Homo sapiens: one gene and its partners. The protein of the gene in region 3 interacts with the protein of the main gene of each other region in a pairwise test. Each region holds a gene or a part of one and is shown on either strand. Other genes may lie near its edges.

The links. Proteins that work in one complex are often made in the same cells at the same time.
Region 1: the proteins of SLC35H1 (region 3) and TMEM50B interact in binary tests that used the Homo sapiens proteins (3 or more experiments, as listed by UniProt).
Region 2: the proteins of SLC35H1 (region 3) and FAM3C interact in binary tests that used the Homo sapiens proteins (3 or more experiments, as listed by UniProt).
Region 4: the proteins of SLC35H1 (region 3) and LPAR3 interact in binary tests that used the Homo sapiens proteins (3 or more experiments, as listed by UniProt).

Annotation. Positions count from the first base shown.
Region 1 is NC_000021.9:33,469,622-33,473,669, forward strand, and holds part of TMEM50B (transmembrane protein 50B), read right to left. Parts: intron 1-4,048.
Region 2 is NC_000007.14:121,361,456-121,365,503, forward strand, and holds part of FAM3C (protein FAM3C precursor), read right to left. Parts: intron 2,734-4,048; coding exon 2,675-2,733; intron 1,493-2,674; coding exon 1,442-1,492; intron 1-1,441. UniProt on the Homo sapiens protein: May be involved in retinal laminar formation. Promotes epithelial to mesenchymal transition.
Region 3 is NC_000020.11:46,353,271-46,358,727, forward strand, and holds part of SLC35H1 (solute carrier family 35 member C2), read right to left. Parts: 5' UTR 5,456-5,457; coding exon of another isoform or gene 5,421-5,455; 5' UTR 5,289-5,420; coding exon of another isoform or gene 5,237-5,288; coding exon 5,117-5,236; intron 4,504-5,116; coding exon 4,353-4,503; intron 3,368-4,352; coding exon 3,304-3,367; intron 2,605-3,303; coding exon 2,532-2,604; intron 1,972-2,531; coding exon 1,803-1,971; intron 1,696-1,802; coding exon 1,612-1,695; intron 1-1,611.
Region 4 is NC_000001.11:84,886,354-84,890,401, forward strand, and holds part of LPAR3 (lysophosphatidic acid receptor 3), read right to left. Parts: intron 1-4,048. UniProt on the Homo sapiens protein: Receptor for lysophosphatidic acid (LPA), a mediator of diverse cellular activities. May play a role in the development of ovarian cancer. Seems to be coupled to the G(i)/G(o) and G(q) families of heteromeric G proteins.

The DNA.
Region 1 (4,048 bases), on a different chromosome or scaffold from region 3:
GTCACAGAAGGCAATGGAGCATCTGCCTGGTTCTCTGGAACACTAATGCTTGGGCTACCATGCTGTAAGGAGACCATTTATAGGTGTTCTGACCCACAGTTACAGTTGAGGTCCCAGCTAACAGCTAGTATTAACTGCCAGACATGAGTAAAGACACTTTTAGGTAACTGCTATCCAGCTATAGCACCATCCCAAAAGTTTGAGCCTTCCCAGGTAAGGCACCAGATATATGGAGCAGAGATACATCATCCTGGCTATGCCCCTTCCAAATTCCTGACCCATAAAATCTAATAAACATAATAAAATGACTGTTTTAAGCCACAGGGTTTTGGCATTAATCTGTAACGCAGTAAGACATAACTGGAAGAAGGAGAAAAATCATGTGCCTAAATAACTATAGGAGTGTAGCATACTATTTTTAAAAACAAAGATATTATGTAAACATGAAATGTTTCAAGGCCACCATAAATTCTAGAAAGAAATAAAAAAAAAATTGAAAGCACTGGACAGGGCTGAAAAACAGGCAGAAATTGAAAGAAACTTCATCCTTGAAAGAAAGAAAACACAGCCAGATGCGTGGTGGCTCACGCCTATAATCCCAGCACTTCAGGAGGCCGAGGCGGGTGGATCATTTGAGGTCACGAGTTCATGACCAGCCTGGCCAACATGGTGAAATCCCGTCTCTACTAAAAATACAAAAATCTGAGGCAGGAGAATCGCTTGAACCCGGGAGGCGAAGGTTGCAGTAAGCCAAGATTGTGCCACTGCACTCTAGCCTGGGAGACAAAGCGAGACTGTGTCTCAAAAAAAAAAAAAAAAAAAAAAATCGGCTAGGCTCGGTGGCTTACGCCTGTAATCCCAGCACTTTGGGAGGCCAAGGCAGGCGGATCACGAAGTCAGGAGATAGAGACCATCCTGGCTAACATGGTGAAACCCCGTCTGTACTAAAAATACAAAAAAAAAAAATTAGCTGGGCATGATGGCAGGCGCCTGTAGTCCCAGCTACTCGGGAGGCTGAGGCAGGAGAATGGCATGAACCCGGGAGGCGGGGCTTGCAGTGAGCCACTGCCCTCCAGCCTGGGCAACAGAGAAAGACTCCATCTCAAAAAAGAAAAAAAATCAGCCAATCATGGTAGCATGCACCTGTAATCCCAGCTACTCAGGAGGCCGAAATAGGAGAATCATTTGATCCCAGGAGGCAGAGGTTGGGGTGAGCCAAGATCACACCACTGCACTCCAGCCTGGGCAACAGAGTGAGACTCCCTCTCAAAGAAAAAAAAAGAAAGAAAACACAGTAAGTGGGATCAGCTGTTCCCCTTAGGAACCCCATTAAACTCCCATTCCCAGCCCAGGGAGTCCCCTTGGCACAAAGTGGCCACAGTGGCAGCAAAAAGCCACAGTCTTCTTGGCTTGAGATGCCAGAAGATGGGAGTTCAGGACCACCATAACAGCTGGAAATTGAAGGGGGACATCTCGGAAAGGAGTAAGTCACAAAGAGAGCCCCAAACACTTTAAAATAAGGGAGACATTTTGGAATTTTCATTCCACCAAGTCAGGGAGGATCAGTAAACACCTTGGGGACATATCCTAACAAAATATAAAACCAAGTCTCCACAATTTCAAGGTGATCAGCCAATATTTTAACTGCCTGTTACAATAAAAAGCAATACTTTTCAGATGAAGATAACAAAATTGACTCATATTATTCACAACGTCCAATATATACTAAAAAAAAATCACTAGACATGCAAAGAACCAGGAAAATGTGATCTATTTTTAAGGAGGAAAAAGAACAGTCAATAGAAATAAATCCCAAAATGACTCAGATATTGAAATTAGCAGACAAAGACTTTAAAGCACCCATTATAAAAATCATATTCAAGGACTTACAGGAAAACATGGTCAAAATAACTGAACCAATGGAGAATCTTAGTAGAGAAAAGGAAACTATTTTTTAAAAAAAGAATCAGGAGCCAATGTGATGGCTTGCACCTGTAATCCCAGCTACTCAGAAGGTCGAGGCAGGAAGATTGCTTGAGGCCAGGACTTCAAGCCCAGCCCAGGCAACATAGCAAGACCCTGTCTCTAAAAAATAAATTAAAATGTAAAAAGATTCAAATGAAAATTCTAGGGGCTGGGCGCAGTGGCTCATGCCTGTAATCCCAGCACTTTGGGAGGCCGAGGCAGGCGGATCACGAGGTCAGGAGATCGAGACCATCCTGACTAACATGGTGAAACCCCGTCTCTACTAAAAATACAAAAAATTAGCCAGGCATGGTGGCAGGCGCCTGTAGTCCCAGCTACTCAGGAGGCTGAGGCAGAATGGCGAGAACCCGGGAGGTAGAGCTTGCAGTGAGCCGAGATGGCACCACTGCACTCCAGCCTGGGCAACAGAGCGAGACTCCCCTAAAAAAAAAAAAAAAGAAAGAAAGAAAATTCTAGAACTGCAAATTACAATGTTTGAATTTAAAAATTAAATGGGCCGGGCAGGATGGCTCACACATGTAATCCCAGCACTTTGGGAGGCCAAGGCGGGGGGATCACGAGGTCAAGAGATCGAGACCATCCTGGCCAACATGGTGAAACCCCGTCTCCACTAAAAATACAAAAACTTAGCTGGGCATGGTAGCAGGCACCTGTAATCCTAGCTACTCAGGAGGCTAAGGCAGTAGAATTGCCTGAACCCAGGAGGCGGAGGTTGCAGTGAGCCGAGATTGCACCACTGCACTCCAGTCAGGCAACAGAGCAAGATTCCATCTAAAAAATAAATAAATAAATAATTAACTAAATGAACTTAATCGCAGATTAGATACAGTAGAAGAAAAGGACAGTAAACTTAAACATCAAAAGAAATTATCCAATTTAGAGACCTGAGGAACAATACTAAGTGGTCTAAAATATATGTAATTAAAGTTCCCAGAAGAAGAAAAGACAGAATAAGAAATAAAAAAATTTTGAAAAAAATAATAGATGGGCTGGGCACGGTGGCTCACACCTGCAATCCCAGCACTTTGGGAGGCTGAGGCGGGTGGATCACCTGAGGTCAGGAGTTCGAGACCAGCCTGGCCAACATGGTGAAACCCCGTCACTACTAAAAATACAAAACTGGGTGTGATGGCACATGCCTGTAATCCCAGCTACTTGGGAGGCTGAGGCAGGAGGATCACTTGAACCTGGGAGGCGGAGGTTGCAGTGAGCCAAGATCACACCATTCATTGCATTTCAGCCTGGGAAACAAGAACAAAACTCCATCTCAAAAAAAAAAAAGAATAAATGAAAATTTCTCAAATTTGGTGAAAAATATTAACTTATAAATCCAAAAAGCTCAGCAAACTCCAAGGAGGATAAATACAAAGAAAACATCATAATCAAACTGCTGAAAACCAGAGATACAGAGAAACTCTTGAAACAGTCTTATGGGGAAAAAAATCAATACAACATATACAGAGACAGAACAATAGGAATGATGGCTCACTTCTAACCAGAACAAAGGATACTAGAAGACACAGGAATGACACTGTTAATAACGCTTTAAGACAAAAAAAATCAGGCCAGGTGTGGTGGCTCATGCCTGTAATCCCAACACTTTGGAGACTGAGGTGGGCAGACTGCTTTGAGGCCAGGAGTTCAAGACCAGCCTGGGCAACATGGAGAAACCCCATCTCTAATAAAAATACAAAAATTATCTGGGCATGGTGGCCCTTACCTGTAGACCCAGCTACTCAGGAGGCTGAGGCACAGGAATCACTTGAACCCAGGAGCTGGAGGTTGCAGTGAGCTGAGATCGCACCACTGCACTCCAGCCTGGGCAAAAAAGTGAGACTCTGTCTCGGAAGAAAAAAAAAAAAAAAAAAAAACTCAATCCCAAATTCTATACCCAGCAAAAATATTCTCCAAAAATGAGGATAGCCAAGCATGGTGGTGTGCACTTGTAGTCTCAGCTACTCAGGAGGCTGAGATGCAAGGATCACTTGTGCCCAGAAGTTCGAGGTTACAGTGAGCTATGACAGGTGACACAGTGAGACCTTGTCTCAAAAAAAAAAAAAAA
Region 2 (4,048 bases), on a different chromosome or scaffold from region 3:
GTAATTAATCTACCTGTGACAAGAGAAGTAAGGAATACCAGAGCTCCTGGTCACATGACTGATTTCAACAACAGCTTTGTAAGACTCTTTCTATCAATAAATTTTGGCAGGACCAATTTATGCCTTTAGAATCTAAAATTGATGGTCCCATTTTAAGTTTATACAGCTTTGACAGCTATGCAATGTTGTCCTAACATTATTTAATAACAAAATAATACACGGCATCTTTTGTTTTTTTGAGACGGAGTCTGGCTCTGTCGCCCAGGCTGGAGTGCAGTGGCAAGATCTCGGCTCACCGCAACTTCTGCCTCCCCGGTTCAAGGGATTCTCCTGCTTCGGCCTCCCAAGGAGTAGCTGGAACTAAAGGTGCATGCCACCATGCCCGGCTAATTTTTGTATTTTTAGTAGAGACGGGGTTTCGCTGTGTTAGCCAGGATGGTCTCCATCTCCTGACGTCGTGATCTGCCTGCCTCGGCCTCCCGAAGTGCTGGGATTACAGGCGTGAGCCACCACGTCCGGCTACATACCATCTTATTACAAGCTGAAGATATGTTGGAAAAGCTAAATTATCTGAGAACTCTTAACATGAATTTCAGGAAGCCTAATAGCTGTTGGCTTCTAGGGAATATATAAATGGAATGGGGAGGTGCAGGGGAGATCCTCATACTGATCAATCTCCCAAATTAAAGAATCAAAAGATAAACCAGTGTTGGCCTCCCTTCAAACTGGAGGAAAAAAACCCATTCTTCCGGGCAGCGTTCTTCTTTGGGGTGCCAGTCCCTTGCCTCTGCGTGCTGGTAACTTCTTCCCACTCCTTGTGGGACTTCCAAATATGGAAGGGGAAAATATCTGTGGATTGCTTTACAAGAAAGAAAATTCTATTTCTTCCCTCAAATATTCATCTACCTAAAAAATTAGCTGCAAGTCAGAGGGTAGAACTGTGATGAATAATAGGACTGCTGTTCTAAAACTGATAGTTTATCTTGTCTTTCTAATGCTCCTAATGCTCCTAATGATTTATTTTTGAGACTAAAAAATCACATTTAAAAAAAAATCAATTCCTATCACTTAGGAATGCTTACATTGGTTATTCTGGTCTTCAAATTACTTTTTTTTTTTAAATTTTAGACACACTTAAAGGAGCCCAAAACTTTTGAATTGGTTGTCCTGTAGAAAACAAGATGACTTTTTTTAAAAAAATCTCAATTTTGATATTACTATCTTCAATTATACACCACAAAAATTTTTTTCTAAGAAGAAGAAAGTATATAAAACATGAATGATAACTTAAATACAGCTGGACATTTAGTGAACAGAAAGTAAGGGAAACAAAATGAACTAACGCAAATAGCATCATCATTCTCTCATTAATGGGCTACATTGTATTGAGGTGATTAAGTCAGTGCCAGCAAAAGAACACAGTCATGTTATTTATGCTTACCTCCTCCCCACATGTCAAAATATTTAGTGTCTAATACTTCTCCTGTTTTTCCTAAAAGAGATTAAATTCATATCAAATTATGCATCTGAAATATATCATACACTGTAAGACCAATAATCTCATCCAATGATTGATGTGAATTCATTAGCAGAGAAGATGTGAATTCATTAGCATTAGAGAGATGTGAATTCATCTCAAAGAATTACTTTGAGAACTTAAAATCTGAATCATATGCACCTGAAATATATTTTTAAAGGGTAATTTCTTAATAGAACTTTCTCATTAATCTTTTAAGCCGAAGGATAAATAGAAGTTCATTACTGACTGTAGACCATTCCAATTCGGTTAGATATATTTCATCGTTGTTTCCATATTCTCTTATTTTAAAATTACTCAAAAGTAAACCTTTTACAAAAAAGAAGTATCTCCTTGAATCAGATGCCATTTTCTACATTAAATCAGTTTTTACAATAAAACTTACATTAACTTGCCCTATAAAATGTATTTTTTGCTATTAATGAAATAGACAGATGTTGAACCTTTTACCTAAGGAAATGAAGAAAGCAGAAGAACAAAAATTTACCTCTTGCTGTGAAAGTAGTAAAATATATTTTTCTACACTATGAAACTACAGTGGTTTCTAACCATCCTATATATCTTATAACCATCCTACATAGCTTTATGGAATACTTATTGTACCAGAACAGAGAGGATCAATATGCAGTTAGGCCTCACTTTATGGTTTTATGTTTTCAGATTTGATTTTGAAGGAAAATTTGAGATGTTCAGGATTCAATCAACTTATTCATACTAATTAAGCTATCAGAAGAATGTGGCTGATAATGAAAAATTACAATACATTCTTATTCTTTGTTCCTCCCCCTACACCATCCTTTGTCATTTCATACGCCTTTAATCCTGTCAACCTATCTTCCTATTATGTTAGGATTCCAAAATTTGAAGCAAGATTTTATCAATGTGATGTTAGACTGCTTGGTTTCTGACAATCTCATGGAAGCTCTTGCATAGCAAGTTAGGATACTTTCAAGAAACACGCTATAAATTCTTAGACACCAAGTCTCCACCCATAGATTTTTTGCAGGGCAGGGATGGGACAGAGGGCTTTATCATCAAGAGCAGTACTTTCTAACCTGATCCTCTGATAGTGCATTTTACTTTGGGACAGAAAAATACCCAATGATTACATCCATAAGCTAAAATAATTGTTCTTACCATTTGCCAAGGCAACATTGATCCCTCTTCCAACATTATTCTTAACACCACTCATTAAACTGAAGGGGGAGAAATTGAAATAAATTTAGAATTAAATATTGTACAATAACATATCAGAAAAATAAAGTCTTGCAAAAAAAGTTAGGAATATTATACATATTTTCAATTGTTCAGTGCTGCGGAGGAAATTAAAAAGATCTCTACTAAGTCAGAGAAGACAGTCTAATACTGAATAATTTTAAAGCAATGTCCTTAAATAATATTTCACAAATAGAAATACATATTAAAAAATATTAGGCCTGAAATAATAGACCATTTTTGTGCTACACTGCTTCAGATTATTCTTAAAACATGGACATTAAGCATATGTTCTGCATCATTCTTAAGGTATCAAACAAAAGATAATCTCTTTTCTGCTCTCTTCAATACCAGCGTGACATGAAACAGAAGCGAGATACTACCCCCATCATTTAAATCTAAAAGCAAACAGAGTGGGGGAGCACTCTTTCATGAATGTTTTACCTAATTGTGAACATTCTCCTAGTGATTATCACTGTAAAGTTCGTCTACACTAAGAAATATTGCACTCATGAAATCACTGCATTGAATGACAGTCACTTACGTGGTGACTACCTGAAATAATCGACTTCCATGGGCAGCTCACAGACCACTATATAAAGACAATGACACTGTAAAATGGAAGGTACCAGTGACAAATTTGCTGGTTATCAGTTCAGTTTGTTCAATTGCTCAAATTAGAATTATTAAACTAAAATTGTGAGTTCTTTTAACTCAAAACTTCAAGGTAATAGTAATACTCCCAGTGGTGTGCTGTTAACTATTTAACAACTGCTCTGTGTTTAGGAGAGAGAGGCAATATGCACATATGTGACTACACGTGCACACACTTGTCCTTATATAGACAGAATTATATATACACATAGGTACACAATTTATTATAAACTACTAAAAGATGTATAGCACACAATTTCATAAATAAAATCTACGATGTACTTTATTATAAATCTCAGTCGATTCTCACAGAGTATTTTAGTTGATTTTTCAAACAATTCACATCTGCAGCTGAACTATGGTTGCAATTGATGAATGAGCTCAGTTCTAACAAACGTTGGATCTATGTTAATAAGATAAAATAAAGAAAAACAAATAATGGAGATTCATGTTCAAATTCCACTTGCCTGTCAATGATGACTGAATCAGATAATAAGTTTTAAATATTGGAAGACTACTTCCTACATTTTTGGTGCTATCCACCATATAATAGATATAGATAGGACATATTTTTCAATTTAATCTGTGTAATATTTTCTCCCTCACCTCAAGTCTAGAACTTGAGTCTGCAAACTTTTTGTG
Region 3 (5,457 bases):
GCAAACACATGGCCCCTTGCTCCAGAAACACAGGCATGCACACCCCCTACCCCAAATTCAGCTTAGACTTTCGGAGGAGTCATGGTCCCTCCAACACTGTCCATCTGGAAGAATGACTCCCGGCGTCCCTCCCACACGAAAGTCCTCGTGGTGTATTAGCACAGGGTGAAGGGGGGCCCAGAACTGGGCACAAGAGACAACTGTGGTAGCTGGAAGCTGGACGAGTATTTTGAGATTTTTGGAGGGAAGCACCAAAGAAATGCCGAGTGACAGTCCCCCCAGGCAAAACAGCCTCACAGTGTAGGACATCTTGTTTGGTGCTGGGCTCAGCAGAACTGCAAAGGCGTCGGCAAATTGAAGGGAATTCGGGGAAGAGCAGCATAAGTAATGAAGGCGCTTGGGGGATTAATTTACCAGAAAAGATTAAAGGAGCTAAATCCATGCAGCTTTGCCAAGTGACGACTACCAGGGGCTTTCAGATGAGGTTTTGCAGAGATGGGGCATGGTGTAAACACACGGGAGGGGAGGGAGAGTGTGGCGTTTGGTACAAGGGGGCATAATGAAGGAGTGGGGAGAGATTTTAAAGAAGGAAAAAAAACGAGGCCCTGAACAGAAGTTTCCTGGACAACGGGGCTTCAGAATAATTTTCTTGGGGAGGTTCAAGACGCTTCACTGCTTGAAACTTAAATGGATGTGGGACAGAATTTTCTGTAATGACCCTGAGGGCATTACAGACGGGACTCTGGGAGGAAGGATAAACAGAAAGGGGACAAAGGCTAATCCCAAAACATCAAAGAAAGGAAGGTGGCGTCACACCTCCCAGCCTACACAGTTCTCCAGGGCTCTCCTCATCCCTGGAGGACGACAGTGGAGGAACAACTGACCATGTCCCCAGGCTCCTGTGTGCTGGCTCCTGGTCTTCAGCCCCCAGCTCTGGAAGCCCACCCTCTGCTGATCCTGCGTGGCCCACACTCCTTGAACACACATCCCCAGGTTATATTCCTGGACATGGCTGAACCTCCTATTCCTACTTCCGAGATGCCTTGCTCCCTGCAGCCTGCCAAAATCCCACTCACCCTCCAAACCACGGCCTGGGAAGCCTTTCTGACTTGCCTGATTACTCCAGCATCTTGGAACAATCCCTGATTCCCCATTCCTTAGAGGCAAGATAGGGTGGTTAAGAGTAGGGCTGGACCACTTGGAGCCAGGCTGCTGGCTTCAAATTCTGGCTCATTTACGAGCTATGGGACCTTGGGCAAGTTATCTTTACTTCTCTGGGCCTCATTTTGTTCTACCTGCAAAATGGGGGATAATAATAGTACTGCCACACCAGGTTTTTGGAAGGATGAAATGAGTTCCTATGTTTAAAAAGATCAGAACAGCCCTGGTGCACTTTCAGGGCTCTGTGCACACTTACTGTTACTGTTCCCTGAATTTTATATGTGCTTTCTCTGTAGCGTTTATCATGCTGGACCCCAAACCATGCGCTTCCAGGGGAGGGACTGCATCTTTGATCTCAATAATCTCTGCAGCTACCACTGTGTTGGGCTCAGGGCGAGGATCTGTGGTCTGCTGCACTGAGGTGCCCTTGAGAGGGAAGGCCCAACGTACCTTCAAATACAGCAAAGAGAGGGAAGAGCCCCAGGAACATGAGTGGCTGCAGGTGGAACATGGTGTCGATGGGATTCTGGAGGCCTGCAGGGCGGGGGACAGGCACCATCAGGTCTGGTCCGGCCCTGCCCTGCCTCCGCCCTGCCTGTGCCGGGGTTCCTCTCTCTGGAGGATGAGTGGCACGTGCTCACCGAGTTCAGCCTTCTGCAGGAGCATCTGGGTGAGGGTCCAGCGAATGCCACCGATGAACGAGGCCCCCAGCACCAAGGCGAAGCCCTCCACGTTGAACTGTGTGGACTTGTAGGTGAACATGAAGAGACCCCCGGCGATGAGGAGGACCACCAGGACCAGTGCCGCGCGCTGGTAGGATGGGGAGCAGTGGCAGCTAACTCGGGGGTCTTGAGGGTCAAGGGTTCATCACATTTGGAGCCTGGGGTCAGCAGCCATCTTGGCTGCCCCTGGGGCAAGAAATCCTTCCACCCTTCAGCTCCATCCCAGGGGGTCCTGGACAGTCCTTGCCCACCAATGTCAGCATGTAGGGCTGACGGTCAGCTGGTATGCCAACAGCCCTGCTTGCTCTGCCACACTGACGGCTGTCCTAGGCCCCCAAGTGGTCCCACCTCCTCCCTGGGCCTAACACACAGGGCTACTGCCTCCCACAGCAGGGTGCTTCCTAGACCCAGCTCTGCTGGGACCCTCATCCTGCAGTGCTTTCACCTTTGGTCATTACCCTGCCACACTGGTTTCTAAATATTCTGAGTATTGCCCATGTCTAGGTCCCTTCTCAGAAAGGGATCTACTGCCACCTGGACTGGGCTTGTCTCCTCTGTCACACAGCAGGACAAGCCACTGCTCAGACTCCCACTTTATTCTTAGCATCTGTGGGGGCAGGAAGGACACAAGAGACGCTGGGGCCTCACCAGCTCCTCCAGCTTGAAGATCAGAGAGAAGATCAAGATGAAGAGGACAGCTGAGGATTTGGTCATTGTGTACCTGGAAGCAAAATTACCCACAATGCACTGCTGGAGCTCAGGGCTCAGACCCATCACCGAGAAAGGAGCAGGAGCACAAATCACTGAGCGAAATGACCAAACAGAGCTGGGCTGTCATCTGAGTGATAAGCGACCTTTAATCAGAAGGAATCTCTGACTAAGAGGCCTCTGGTTATCACCAGAGAGAAGAGGTTACAGGTCTGACGTTGAGCTCCCTGAGTCCTGTTCTTTACCTAACCCTCGGCAGAGCCCAGGAGCGGGAAGGAAGGATGAGAAGTAGGAGGACAAGAAGGCAGGAACAGTGCTCTCTGAAGCAAAACATCAGAGGGAAGAAGAAACTCTTGTGTAGCCCCCAGGCCACATAGGGCTCTGCTGCGGCTGCGTGTACCACCCACCAGTGGCCACCTGTCTGTGGCCTTGCAGCCTGCCTTCCCCTGCTCTGATGATGGGGTTCTGGGAGAGCTCCCTGGCTTCCCCACGCTGCCTGGCAGGTGGGCACAGCATCTCCTCTGCGCTGGGCTTACGGAAGAGGCTGGCGACTTCCCGGAGAGCTGCTGGGTGCCAGGGAGAGGCTGAGAGAGCAAGGGCTGGTCCCAGAGTGGTGGAGTGGCTGGCCTAGCAGCCGGGTGTGCAGACACCCCGCTGGACAGACAGACAGCTTCAGCCTGAAGGGAGGCAGCAGGGCATGGCCAGTACTCACAGCGAGACGGTGACATACAGGAAGCTCCAGTTGGACAAGCCCACGTCAAGCGCCGTCGCCAGAGCTGTGAAGACACAGGCACCCACAGGACAGCTTGGGAGGTCCACACTCTGCTGGGGTGGGCTGGTACCCTGAGGCACCTGAGTGTCCCCCACTTCTGAACCATCCCGGTGCCTCCTGTGGGGCCCTTGGGCCTTCTTTTCCACCAGCAACTAAAGGGTTAATATCTGGCCCCCAAAGGTCGGGGGCTGCTCTAGCATTAGGGCTGGGGCCCATTCCAACTGGCTGGGCCGGTATGGTTTCCACAAACACTCCGGCGAGCCCCCTGAGCGGAGGTATTAACCTGATCTGGTTGATCCCTTACTGGAAACCCTTTTCCCTCAGGATGGAACACAAACTCCTCCACGGGGAATCCGGCCTCCAGGACATGACCCCTGCCCACCCTCTCAGTTCTCATTTTTCCCACTTCCTCTGGCCAGCACCGGGTTCTCAGTATCCTGAAACACTTTGAGTTCCCTTCCAGACCCCACAGCTGGCACTAAATCTCCCTCGGGCCACGAGGGCCCCTCCTCCCAGGGCCAACCAGTCCCACGCATCCTTCAGGGCTCTGCCTACTTGGCACCTGGCCTAGGAAATCTTCCTCTACCAGCCATGGGCCCCGGCCTTGGGTTGGTCCCCTCCCTGGGCTCCGTAGTGCCCTCCATGTCCGTGTCACAGCCCTGCGAGGGCAGGGACCCTGCCTGCTCACCACTTATCTCCAGGCCTGAGGGCTGCACTCCAGGCTCGGTGTCTGCTGGCAGGAGAGGGAGCTGCGGGGCCGCAGGTGCAGGGGGGGTTTTGTGGGTGTGTGGTGGGGCAGTGGGAAGGCACGCAGTGCACAAGAGGCAGCAGCGTGGGTGGTGGGAGGCCAGGTCAAGAGGGCAGAGGAGGAACAGTGCAGGAAGAGGGGAGGGACTTGGCTTCCAGACATGCGGGTGTCTCTCTTGTTCTCATCCTATGGTTCCCCAGCCCCTCTTCCTGCTCTGCCCTCACTGAGGTCCCCCACCTACCTGTGGGAGCCACTCTTCTGAGGTAGTCGGCCCAGCTCAGCACCACACGGGCCCTGTGGCTGGAGCACTGAACCAGCGCCCTGGACAGGGCGGAGAAGAGGAAGATCACGGCCAGGTGCAGCATCGTCATGAAGAGGGGGAAATGGAAGCTCTGTATGGAGCCCAAAGCAGACACCCCGGCTTGGTTTAGACAGCCTGCCCCCCACCGGCTCCCTCTTCCTCTTCGCCCCTCTGCTGGAGTGGGGCTCATTCGGTGGTTCATGAGGACCTTGCTATGTGTGTAGGGCCCTTAGTTACGGTATCATCGCTTGGAATGACAGACTCTTAGGTCACGAAGACAGGTGGCAGCCAAGAGACTCAATCCTAGCCTGGTGCTGTCTCCACCATTTCAACACACCTGTGAGCTACCTGCCCAGCCTTCCTCACGGCCTATGCCCAAGTGAGAGCCACTGCGGCCCACTACGTTGTATCACTTATTAAAATATTGAAATACTTCTCTAGTGGGGTAAATAGCTGCTGCTTGAGCCCCAGTTTCCCCAGCTCATCCCTTCACACCCCCCGCTCTCCTTGGTTTCCCTGGATCCAAACACTGAAGGGGAACCCTGGCACGGCAGGCTTGGAGGGCCCTGTTCCAGCCCAGCCGTGACTGGCTTCCAGTTAGACTGGTTGAAGCTTGTGCCTTCCTGTTAAACATGAAGGGCACCGTAGCCATGGCTCTGGCCACCTTCATCCCAGCACCCCGCCCCAGCAAGGCCTCCTGGTACCTTTGTCAGCCACTTGTTGTAGAAGGTGATGCCGATGGAGAAGCAGTAGTAGAGAAGCACCAGCCCCAGGGTCAACACCGCCTTCCACAAAAAGGCCACATCGAGGGCCCACCTCCCCATTCGTGGCGGCTGCAGCACCGGAGCTCCTGAGTCAGCGGGGGCAGGCACCCCTCTTGAATACAATGTGCAGGAAGAGCCGGTGGAGTTAGACCACAGCTTTCACCAAGAACGTCTCCAGGCTGGAGGAGCTCTCTGCAGCTCCATGATTCGGAACCATCAGCAGAGCCCCAGGCAGAGTCCTCACCTAAGGGGCTGGTGGCTGGTGCTGACCCTTCCCATGG
Region 4 (4,048 bases), on a different chromosome or scaffold from region 3:
TCCTCTAAAAAATATTTTTTAAATTAGCCGGGAATGGTGGTGAGCACCTGGAGTCCTAGCTACTTGGGAGGCTGAGATAGGAGGACTGCTCAAACCTAGGAGTTAGAGGCTGCAGTGAACTATGATCACGCCACTGCACTCCAGCCTGTAGTACAGAGCAAGACCCTGTCTCTAAAAAAATTAAAATTAATAAATATTGTATTCTGCTAATTTGCCAAGAGAGTAGATTTTAGGTACTCTTATCACAAACACAAGAAAGGTAACTATGATGGGCATGTCAATTTGCTTGACTGTAGTAATTACTTCATTACATCTATGTTTATCAAGATAAATACATGAAAATATCATGTTGTATGCCTTAAATATATAAAATATAAATAAGACAAAAGTACCATTCTCTACTAAAAGGGAGGCCTAACTAGGTCAAGGAAAGTAGAAGATGAGTCCAGATGATCTGGTGGAGCCAGAAAATAAAGAAATGCTCAATGAATAATAGGGATGTGTTAAAAGGACACAGGAGGCAGCTCCAAGGGGTCCCCATTGGCCAAATTGAGCACAATTTGAGCATTAAAATAAAAAACAATCGTGAGACTTCAACTTATTGAATACATAAGGAATCCATGAACAGTTCTTAGTAAAAACATAACAGAAAAATAAAGTTCTTCCTTATAGTAGTATGCCAACTAACAAATGTAGAAAGAGTGACGGTGATAAAGAATCATCACTTGAGGCTGGGTGCAGGGGCTCATGCCTGTAATCCCAGCACTTTGGGAGGCCAAGGCAGGTGGATCACTTGAGCTCAGGATTTCGAGACCAGCTTGGGCACCATGGTGAAACCAACTCCATCTCTACAAAAAATACAAAAAAAAAAAAATAAGCCAGGTGTGGTAGTGTGCACTTGTAGTTCCAGCAACTTGGGGGGCTGAGGCAGGAGGATCACTTGAGCCCAGGAGGTTGGGGCTGCAGTGAGCCAAGATCATGCCACTGCACTCCAGCATGGCAACAGAGTGAGACCTTGTCTTAAAAAAAAAAAAAAAGAATCACCATTTGGCAACATTCATAGAGGTGGCTGATTCAGGCAGACGTCATCAATAAATGGTAGTTTCTGTAGGTACAGGTTTAATGAGGAACAGGCTATTTGCATAACCCTAGAATAGTTCCCCACAAACACTAGTACAAAGGTGTTTTCAAACACCTTTGGGGAAACAAAGGGAAACGAAGGAAAAATGGCGAATTTAAGGTGAAGAAATCTGGCAAACACCAACATAACCAGGTGATTGAGGTCAATATCCCAGCAGTGGGATGGGTTGGCACCATGTGCCTTCTGTTGTAAGAAGCTAAGAAGAGCTGAGTTTCATTTCTGAAGGATTCCTGCCAAGAATGCATGACCTCAGTCAGGCTGTGAAGAAATACCCAATACAGCCAGGTTGGGAGTCATCCTACAGCATGTAGGACCTATACAACTGCAAACACTTTAGGAACAGGGAAAGTCTGAGGAACCGTTCCAGAAGAGACATGGTAACTAAATGTAACATGAATCCTAGATCAGACAGGTAGAAGAGACATTTGGGGGATAACTGACGAAATAGGAATGGGCTCTGTGGATTGGATGATAGTGTTTTGTATCAATGTCCATTTCCTGATTTGATGGGTGTACGCTGGTTATATAGGAGGACAGAGTGCTTGCTTTTTTTTTTATGCTGGAGTGTTTTCAAGAGTGATGGAGAATAATGTCTATGACTTCCTCTCAGAATAAAGACTGATGATGTATATTTTATATATATATATATACATACATACACACACACACACACACACACACACACAGAGAGAGGCAGAGACAGAGAGAAGGAGGGAGGGAGAGAGAGGGAGAGATTGAGATTTCAAACCTAATGCCATGGAGACATAGAAAAAGATTATACTACTTATTTTCTCTTCACCAGACCCATGTGATAGTTTTTGTCCAGAGAAAGGCCTTCCTTACCCCCATTCGACGAACTGACTTACTAAAAATCAAACAGGGCAGGAGGTAAATGATTCACTGATGTGCTCCCAATAAATTCTATACTTGATCCCTTGCTTTGGTTTTCTATAACTAGTCACTGCCAATGGCTTTGAGTCTTAACTCTGGCTTTCTACCTCCTTAGGGAGTGAATGCTGCTGATAGACTCCGCTGCCTATCTTTGAATTACATGGTCTGAGTCTGTCTGGGGGCAGCTCCAGAATTTCTACAGAGGATGTGCTTCGGGATAGCTTGGCTTAAAAGGGGAGACCAGGGGCTTGCCTTAAAGCTGCATTTATAAAGCAAATACACTGCTTTTATTTAGACCGCATGTTTGCTTGGAAGGCCTTTGGACCAAATAGTGCACTTATGGAGGGGCTAATGTGCCCTCCAACCCAGCCCTGCCACCTGCCAAGCCATCCCTTGATAACTGGTCAATCTGCACATGGGTGAGTCAAGGCCAGGGCTAGTAGAAGCTCCAGCTTAATGTCCCAGGGAACAATGTAGACACAGGACTAGCTGATGAGTAATTAGAGGGGTTGATGAACATCCTCAGGAAGGGGTGGGGCAGGCTGTGCTGGGCAGGTTGCTTTCCACAGTGACACCCAGTCTGGCCCAGCCTGAGGTGTACAAATGATTCACATCTGAAGAGGGGTGACAGAATCATGGGAGTAGGGCAGTATCAGGGGTCATGGGCAAGGGAGGAGTTCAAGGTTGTAGATACACAGGACAAGAGGCCAGCCAAGGAAGAGGAATAAAGAGGAGGACATAAGACTGGGGGTGATGAAGAGAGGGGTGGGTATAACCCAGGATGTCAGAACCTTCCCCTCAATGGTACTAAATCCCCTCCCCCACCCTCCAGCTGGCTTGCCAGGACAGGTAGAGAGCAACAAATATCTTTCAGACTGAATTAAGTAATTAGCTTAATTTGGGGGTGGGGGAGCAATGCCTTTGGTCAGTTTAGAACTTTGCAGAGTAAACTAGAGACCCAAGTCAGCAAGAAGGCACAGGGGAGTGAGGATGGTATAGGTGGACCCAATACATTGTCCAACATTGCCATCAGCACCCTCCTCCTGACCTGTGGGATGGGTGGTGGCCAGCTGTTTGTGTTTGTCCACTAAGAACTGAGATGCGCAGACAGTACAGGTAATTCCAACACGAAATTAAAGCTTCTTTGGAACTTTGCCCTATGCCTTCGATCATGTAGTGTTGGGTAACCTCAGTCCTGAAATTTAACTTCCTCTCATATTCCCCACAGAGCAGTTTCTCAACCTTTGATGCTATTTCCTCCTCGAAGTCCAGTATGATGTCAGAGGACGGGAGAGAGGAATATGGAAGAACTGCAGCAGTGCCCCCTTAGCACTCAAAACATGCTTGTGGAGATACTGCCAACCCCCAATAGCCAGAGCTGAGTGGGCCTGCCTGGGGTGGCCCACATCTGGATGTCCTGCCTCTTTAATTCCAATGTTTATGCACTCTTCACAGGGTACAAAGCTCTTTCACGTACATAAGTTAATGGAACTCATTAACAATCCATGTAGACAGGTAGAAAAGTAATTATTATCCCCACTATATAAATGAAAAAAACTTAAACATGACAATCTATTCAGGGTCACAAGAACTCACAAAAGTGGGACTAGGATTCAAAGACAGAACCCTGTGCTCCAAGTACCTCTAGTCCACCGTTTGTAAAAGCACAAAGTCTCTGCACTTATGCAGATAGCTCCCCAGCCCCATCACCACCTCTGCCATCCACAGCAGGACTGAGTTCCAGGTGACTCCTCCACAAATACAGAATCCAGGATGAGGAACAAAGGATCATCAAGGCCGGAAAGGGGGAGGCTCAGTACCTGCAGGAGGAATGACGAAGGGAGGAACAAAAGGCCCATGGCCAGGAAAAGAGAAAGCAAGTAAGAAAAGTGTGTATAACATCTCTAAGTCATCTAAGGCTTAGAAATCTTTGCACTTTTACCAGAATATACATTTGCACCCATGTTTACACAAGTGTTAATACTTAAATTTTTATCTAGGAGGAAAAGAGGGCAA